Regions from separate parts of the Homo sapiens genome. Here all the other regions are linked to region 1. Evidence: fine-mapped expression QTL. A gene starts in region 1. Each other region holds a variant in brackets. All regions are shown on one strand. Distances are from middle to middle.

Region 1 (2,753 bases):
GAACAGGGAAGAGATCAAAGCCTGTTTCTTATTCTATCACAGTCTCACATCACCCCCATTAAGGGCGCCCTCCCTGTGCTGCAAAAGGGCCAGCGTGGATGGGAGGGTGCTAGAGCCAGACCTCTGGGTCCTCAGGGCTCCAATCTCAGCTCCCCCCATGACTGGCTGTGTAACCCTGGGCAAGTCCCATCCCTCTCTCCACCTGTTTCTTCATCCTTAAAATGGGGGCAACGAACCCCTCAGGGCTGACCCACAGGATGCTCTCAGAGGAGCAAGCACTCAGAAGGCAGCTGGGCTTCCACGTGCGGGCCCTGCACTGGGGCTTGCCTAACGGCACTCCACCGCCTTGCAGCTGAGCTGTCCATCGCCACCCACTTGTGTAGACAGGACATGGCCAAAGGCCACAGGGCTGGTCAGGCTCGCACTGGGTACACCCAGGTGTGTTGCTTCCCCCGGACTGCTGGAATTCAGCTTCGGCCACTTCTTGGCTGTGTGAGGGAGACCCGGGCCTTGGTTTCTCCATCCATAGCATAGGGCTCATGAAGAGTGCTTTCTGGCAGAGTTGTTAACAGATTTGGGAATGAGGGTCATCCCTCAGGCAGGTCCTTCAAAAAGAGCTTTGGGAGGGGGTAGAGTGGTGTGCCCCCCAGCGGGAGCTGAAGAGAGCACACTTGCCACTGAGGGCCCCCACTGCACCTGTCACCCAGCCCTCCAGTGGGGAGCCAAGGAGGGCACACCTGCTGCTGGGTGCTCCCGCTCCACCTGTCACCCCACCCCCCAGCAGGAGGTAGCAGGAGGAGGGGCTCTACACTCTGTGTCCGGTTCAGTGTCACATGGCTTCCCATCTCCTCATCATCAAGATGCAGATCCCCACATCGAATGTTTGGTGTGGTGCACCAGAGGGCTGCCACAGCACACCCCAGCATTAGAGCCCCACCCACCCCCAAAGCTGTCCCGGACAGCACAGCCCTCCTGGAAGGGGAAGTGAGCCCAGCCCCCCTCCCCACTGTGAAGCCTGCCCTCCCGCAGAGCAATGTCCTCCCCAGGTCAGCGCTGCAAGTGCCCTACCTGAGGCCAGTGACCCTCCGACCTGCACATGGCTCCCTGCACAGGCCAGGCGCCCAATGAGAGGCTGGAGGAGGTGGCCCTGGGGCTAGAGGTCCCTGCCCTATCTGCCCAGTCTCTTCCTGGCCTCCCCACAGTGCTGGCCTCTGCCTCCATCTCAGTCACACATGTCTAGCCTCCAGGCGCTGTGCTCTGGCCTGCCCCTGCGGCCCCTCCCAGAGAACCGGGGACGCCAGGCTGGGGTGCCCCATGCCCCTGTCAGGACCCCCAGCCTCAGCCCTGTGGAGAAACAGGTAAGCAGTGGGCCCGTGCTCCCGAGGCCTTGGCCTCTAGGCATCCTCCAGGTGGTCCATAGTGAGCACCCAGGCTTCCTGCCCTCTTAGTGGGAGCTGCTCAGCCGCCCACCCTGGACTCCAGGGGCTCCAGCCTGTGCGGGTGCAATGCACAGTGGACTCTGTCTCTTGGATGCAGCCGCCCTTGGGTGCAGGATCGCCGTGCCTGTTTACAGATGAGGACCCTGAGGCTCAAGGTCAGCAGCCGGTCACTGGTGGCACTTTGGCCACCTCCAGTGGGAGGAGGCCTTGGGTGGGTGTGAAGTGTCCCACACCAAGCGCCGCGTCCACCCCAACACTCAGAACGTTTGCACACAGGTCAGCTCTTATTTTCATTTGCAAATGTCCCTCCCGCAAATCTCTGGAGAACGTGCGGCTGCATGGCTGAACCCTGTAGCTGGCAGGCAGTTGCCAGGGAAAGATGGGCTGAGGCCAGTATCCCCTCATCTAACAGCAAAGCAGTCCAGGGATGGTGCACGCTTGCCAGTGGTGCCCTGTCTGGGAACCTCCCTTTTGTCATTTGTCAGCTTGAGATGAAAATGGTGACACCAGGGGGTTGTGGAGAAGAGTAATGAAATAAAGTAGGTGACACGGTTATATAGACTTTCCTCCTACTTTTTACTGGAAACTACTCAAGATTTTCAGAAACAGTAGAGAAGTGGAAACTGCAAACAAGCATAAAGATTAAAAGAGGAATCCTACCTCCCCAGGTAAAGATGGCTGCCCTTTGCACCGGAGCCCACTGGACTTTTCTGGAGCCACCCACAGAGGCCTAACAGGACACAGTGGGGACAGTAGGGGTCACTCAGGGCAGAGCTGGCGCTGGGGAAGGGAGAAAGGGGAAGCAGGTTGGTGGGTGTGGGGGTGGAGGGGAGTTGGGGGGCTAGGAGGATGCTGGGGGTCCTTGTGGGAGTGGGGCACTGGGGGCAGGTGGAGCGGGTGCTGGAGGGAAAGGGAAATGGGGGAGGGGCCAGCAAGGTAGAGTAGGTAGTGGGCACTGGGGGGAGGGGGGAGGGTAGGTGGTGGGCACTGGGGGGTGGGAGGGTAGGTGGTGAGTTCTGGGGTGGGGGGATGGTAGGTGGTGGGTGCTGGGTGATGAGGGGGAGGGTAGGTGGTGGGTGCTGGGGTGATGAGGGTGAGGGTAGGTGGTGGGCGCTGGGGGTGGGAGGAGGCTAGTTGGTGGGTGCTGGGGGACGAGGGGGAAGGTAGGTGGTGGGTGCTGGGGTGACAAGGGGATGGGTAGGTGGTGGGCACTGGGGGGTGGGGGACATTAGGTGGTGGGTGCTGGGGTGATGAGGGGGTGGGTAGGTGGTGGGCGCTGGGGGGCAGGGGACAGTAGGTGGTGGGTGCTGGGAG
Region 2 (2,753 bases), 27 kb after region 1:
GCATGCTTGCTCCGAGGGGCTCTGGCTCCTCCTGCCACAGAGTTCTTGCGGGCGTCTCTCTTTTCAGAAGTGCCAGGAATGTTACTGGTCAGGTGTAAGATAGACATTGGGACAGAGGTATGAAGACTGCCCTGGCATGATTCTGGGGCTGGCACCGGCAGCAAAGGCAGTAGCCAGCCCTGCTAGGGCACAGCCAAATGCACCCACCCAGTGCTTCCTGGAAGCCCAGGTGTTCCCGGGGACTGCTAGGAAGCTCCAGGCGCACTCGCCCCGGGCTGCGGTCAGCTGGCCAGCAGAAAGGGGTCAGTAAGCATGTGTCCATTCACTGGACAGTGCTTGGCTGAGCATGGCCACTGTGCAGCGTGTCCTAACCACCAGGGACACAGCAGAGAACAAGACAGACCCGTGTAGTGTGGTGAAGGGTGACTGACGTAAAGCTGAAGGCACACATTGCGACAGGGTTTCAGAGGATGAGGAGCGGCGTGCAGGAAATGAACATGGCGAAGAGCGGTGGTCAGGACAGCCTCTCTGAGTTGCTAACGTTGAGCTGAGACCTGAATGGCCAGAAAGTGCCAGAATATCTGGGGGAAGGTGGTTTCATTGCACAGGTGAAGACGTGGGAACAGGCCTGGCCTGTTGAAGGTGGGAAAGGCAGACCTCTTCATTCAAGAGCACAGGGCATCCCAGGCTTTTGTCAGGATGCATCTTCTGGCACAGGGGCCTGTGAAATTTTGAGATCCCCTGGAGAGGTTGGGAAGATCACGCCCATCAACCAGCGCTACCTGAAAAGTTTCCAGGACCTGGTGATAGGAATAGGACTTCTTAGCTGAAACAGCTGGGCTGCTCCCCAGGTGCACTGCAAACTGCATACTGACCTGCGTGCTCCCTCTCCTGACTGAAAGGTGCAGAGCCAGGCTGACATGCTCCCTGTGCAGTGTCCGACGGCTCCCCCTACTCCTTCTCTTTAGTCAGGGTTCCTCCCAGTTCCTTCACTCTGTTTTTTAAATTGCCAGTTAGAACTCATTTTCTTTCCTCTTTTTTTTTTTTTGGAGAAAGACTCACTCCATAGCCCAGGCGTGGTCTCAGCTCACTGCAACCTCCACCCCCCAGATTAAAGCGATTCTCATGCCTCAGCTCCCCGACGAGCTGTGATTACAGGCGTGCACCACAACACCTGGCTAATTTAGGTATTTTTAGTGGAGACGGGTTTTGCCATGTTGGCCAGGCTGGTCTCGAACTCCTGACCTCAAGTGATCCCCTGCCTTGGCCTCCCGAAGTGTTACGATTACAAGAATGAGCCACTGTGCCCGGCCAGGACTCCTTTTCATAGCAGGCCTGCCCATGCACAGCATAAGGGAGTCAGCTGACCTGCCCTTAGCCATGGCCCTACCTGACTTCCAGGGCTGTACCACATCCATCTCGTGGGGGCAAAGCAGCAGCTGGCTGCCTCTCCTGGGTATCTGAGCAGCCGGAGATTCCTGGGGAACAAGGAGTGCTGCCGATGAGTGTATTAAAAAATCAAACTCAGCATGAATGCTTTCTCTGTGCGAAAAGTCTTTGTCCTCAGAGAGACTGGCAGCACGAAAAGGCTCTTAGCAATTACCTCATCCAGGAAACCAAGAGCTATTCCCAGACGGAAGTGACCTGCCCAA[G/C]GTCTCATGGTAGGTACTGCCAAATACTCCCCCAGTGAGGCCCTCCAACACCTCCAGGCCATCAGCCAGCCACGTCTCTATTGCACAGGTCAGGGGCCAGGCTGCCTGAGGCTTGAGCCCAGACTAAGTGGACACTCGGACTTAACAATTTTTCTGCTTTACAATGGTGTGAAGTGACACTTGTTTAGTACTCTCCTCGACATACAATGGGGTTGCGTCCAAATGAATACATCGTAAGTTAAAAATACTCTTAAGTCGTTTTTTACTTAGGGTACAGTGGGCTTATTAAGATGTAGCACCATCGTAAGACGAGGAGCGCCGGCATATAACACGTGTGGGGTTAAACCCCAGCTCACGACTCACTCGCTCTGTGATATAGGGGAAATTTCTTCTCCTCTCTGTGCCTCCGCTTTCTCATCTATGAAGTGGGCATGATAATGGTTGTGCCTATCTGAACAGGGTGGCTGTGAGTGCTCGGTGAGCTCACACATGTATTACACACGAGTGCTGCCGGGCACACGTGAATCTATTCCAGGCTACAGATGACATCAGAAATAGTTGTGAAGAGGGTCTATTTTCCAGGAGGAGAAATCCAGCGGGTTCTGGTGTGACCTGCCCCTTGTCCTCAGTCTTTACCAGGAAGCCATGGTGGACACTGTTGGCTGACAGCTTCTGTCCTTCCATGCACAGGCGCCGGTGGTCCTGAGCCGAGATCACCATGACGTGAGCGGCACCGACAGCCCCTTTAGGGAGACCTCCAACATTTACGACGGCTCTGCCTTCTGTGCAGGTGAGGAAGATGAGAATGTCTTAAACTTTCATCTTAGATTTGGATTTTATTAAAAATTGATGCATTTAGTCAGTCACAATGTTTCGAAAGATGTTCTGGCACCTGAGAGGCTCGGCATAGAGTGACCAACCCAGGACTGAGGGGGTCTGGGATGTGGGACTTCCAGTTGTAAAACCGGTAAGTGCCAGGCACACCGGGCCAGCTGGGTGCCCTGGACTTGGGTGACCTACAGGCTGTGGGCAGCCAGCTGTTTCCTTACCTTTCCAGATCCTAGAGCTGCATTTCTTGCCTTTTTTGGCTCCTGGTCTCTT
Region 3 (2,753 bases), 20 kb after region 1:
TTGGAAGATGTGCCAGTCCTCAGTGGGTGCCACATGGGACGAGAGAGAGATGGAGGTGAGAAAGGCAAATGCCACTTACTGTCAAGCTCACTGTGGGGTGCAGAGGTGGGAGGGGCTGAGCACTGTCAGCTGGCACTCTCCGGAGAGGGAGGGCTGCCCAGGAGGAGGCACCCCCTGGCCTAGCAAGTGCAGGAGCCCAGGGAGGGCCCAGGCCACGGCATCCTCCCCCCAGGACAGCCCTGTCCTGGAGCCTGGCTCCTGGGAAGATAAGCTCACCTAGGGCGAGTTCCCCAAGGCTACAGCCCCAGGTTGACTCTCCTCTCAATGTGACTGTCACTTTTAGGTGATGGATTTTCTTGTCATCTGTAACAGCAATTGGGGTCATTTCTGTTTGCCCAGGTCCCAGCTCCCCACTCCTGTAGCTAGAGATGGTACAGCCAGGAGGCAGGGATGGAGGGCTGGGGGCACTGGGACACAGAGAGGGGACAGGGAGGCCCCTGGAACTTTCTGTCCAATGACAGCTTAGGGGGTTCCACACCTGACTTCTGGATGCTGAGCCCTCCTCCCTGGCATGCTCACACCTGCACCCCCTCCCCCAACAAGCCAGCGGGCCCAGGGTGAGGAGGCATCTGTGCTTGCAGGGACATATTCTCCCAGGGATTTGGGCCTTTCCGCTGGGTGTGCACATCGGGGGACCCCCAGGACCTGGCGGTCACAGACGAACTGGCCACATCTGTGCTGGAGGAAGCCATTGCTGATGGAGGTGACGCCATTGGTGGGGATGCCCATGGGTGGGTGGCCCCCCCAAAGCTTCTGCCTCCATAGAGACAAGCTTCTATAGCAGGCCCACCTAGCTAATTCTGGGAGGGAACCTGGGCGCAGATGACTTTGTGAGTCTGGTGGGTGCTCAGCTGGCAACACAAAGGGACTTAAAGAAACTTGAGTGAGTTGCAAAGATCCTGGTCCCCAAGTGTCGTTCTCAGCCGTGGAGGCACAGGCCCCACCCACACCAAGCCTCTGCCCTCCAGAGCTGTCCTGGGCTCTGCCAGTGAGGACCTCTGGCTGCGAGTGACAGAAAGCCCCTCAAAGCGGCTGAAGCAGGACGGTCCAGGGCTAGGGTGGCCAGGCAGCAGTGGCCGGGGCCAGGCTTTCTGGGCAGCCCGCAGCACACCACAGTCCCTCTCAGACCCAGCCTCCCCCTCCACGTGGCCAGGGCAGTGCTGACAGCAGTGCTTCTAGTTCCTTCTTGCTGTCTTCCATGATGAAGCTGTCTCCACATGCTCCCGCCAGCCTTCCACGCCTGCCAGGTCCACAAGGGTCTCCTCTGCATCAGGGTCCCCCATGTTCATCCTGGGTTTTGCTGATGCTGAGTGTTGGTTCTGCCAGAGGGTTGTGTTTTTCCATGTCTACATGGCCTGCCTGGGTTTTAACCAACCTTTGTTCTCGTTGAGTGGGTCTGACGTTGTTGTTTC[A/G]TGGTTATTTTATGACACTTCCTCTGTTGTTGCAGTTCTTACCCCGGTCTCTCTGCAGCTTTCCTGCAGGTCGGGTGGCTTTTCTGTGTGGTTCACCAGCCTCTGCTGTGTGCTTCACATCTCTAGGGCCCTTACACCCTGCTGCTGGCCATGTTCGGTGGGCTGGGCAGGGGCCCAGGTTACACAGACTCAGAGTAGGAGAGCCAGGCAGAGGGGAGACGTGGTCACCTGTGGAGGAGGAGGCGGGCAGGGGCCCAGGCAGGAGGGCAGGGGAAGCAGGGGCCTTCTCCTGGGGGTCTGGTCAGATGTCTCCTGGGCTTCCCTGGTGTGAGAACAGCAGGCAGCCAGTGGGGAACGACCAGCCCTCCGGAAAGAAGCCCTGAGCTGCTGCACCCACGAAGACCCTGGAGTAAAGACTCCAGGCCTGGCTGGTTTCCAGGCGTGCTGACCCAGCTCCACATGCCCGCAGCACATGCCCTGCGGCATCTCCACCAGGCAGATACTCTAGTCGAAGGCTGTGAAGTCACAGGAGTGAGGGATTTCTATTACCTTCATTTTAATATAATTTGGTAAAAGTGTAAGCTTATTTAAAATTTTAATGATATTTATGTTAACCACTGGCTCCCACAATTTCTGGAAAATTACCAGTCTGCTTTCACGAGCTGGTCAGGCTGGCTCCTGTGCCCTCTCACATGCACACATACTCCGTGAGCTTGGCCAGGTAGCTCCTGCATAGGCCAAGTTTATTTTCACCTCAGGGCCTTTGCACTGACTGTTCCCTCTGCCTGGAAGGCTGTTCCCTCAGAGCTTCCTTGTCCGGTTCCTTCCCAGCCTTTAGACTCAGCTTGATGGCCACTTCCTCAGAAAGCCCCCGCATCCACCATCCTGGGGAGCCCTCAACACAGTCCTGTGTTCCTCACGGCCCACAGCGGTCTTTGTTCCTGGTGCCTTGCTCAGTGTTGGTGTATAGTAGGCACTGAATAGCTATTTGTGGAGGGACCGAGTGCATCAGGCAGTGCGCTGCACGGCTGTGCATTATTAATTCATGGGGCCACTGGCACTGCTGGTCCCCAAGTTCACAAAGGCAGGGGTGGGGTGGGGTGGGCTCCCTCACCTTGTGTCCTAGCTCAGTGGTGGGCTCGGGGCAGGGTCTGTGCTGAGCTGAGCAGCCTGCCTGAGGGCAGGTCTGTGCCCCTGGAGGGTCTCTGACGCCTGCTGTCCTCTCTCCTGCAGTGAAGGTGTCTGTGAAGCTGCAGTACATGGACAACATCCGCTGGATCC

Direction of the effects. Alleles are on the strand shown, and positions count from the first base shown. SD is a standard deviation of normalised expression in the study named. Not every link is listed here.
For the expression in naive CD8 T cells of the gene that starts at base 1,179 in region 1, allele G in region 3 goes with a higher level than allele A (large effect, 1.0 SD a copy in Schmiedel 2018).

The links. PIP is the estimated chance that this variant, and not a neighbour inherited with it, causes the effect.
Region 2: its variant is fine-mapped to the expression of UROC1 in minor salivary gland (GTEx, PIP above 0.99).
Region 3: its variant is fine-mapped to the expression of UROC1 in naive CD8 T cells (Schmiedel 2018, PIP 0.95).

Annotation. Positions count from the first base shown.
Region 1 is chr3:126,516,199-126,518,951 of GRCh38, reverse strand. UROC1 (urocanate hydratase 1) reads left to right here and starts at 1,179. Exons shown (of 20, transcript NM_144639.3): 1 at 1,179-1,358. The coding sequence starts at 1,233.
Region 2 is chr3:126,488,965-126,491,717 of GRCh38, reverse strand. It overlaps UROC1 (urocanate hydratase 1), which reads left to right. Exons shown (of 20, transcript NM_144639.3): 17 at 2,343-2,442. Among named protein-coding and RNA genes, the nearest start is that of ZXDC, 14 kb to the right of the region's middle. RefSeq lists an enhancer at 1,455-2,654. The variant G/C (reference allele first, on the strand shown) is at 1,653.
Region 3 is chr3:126,496,061-126,498,813 of GRCh38, reverse strand. It overlaps UROC1 (urocanate hydratase 1), which reads left to right. Exons shown (of 20, transcript NM_144639.3): 14 at 642-763; 15 at 2,706-2,753. Among named protein-coding and RNA genes, the nearest start is that of UROC1, 20 kb to the left of the region's middle. RefSeq lists an enhancer at 435-1,312. The variant A/G (reference allele first, on the strand shown) is at 1,473.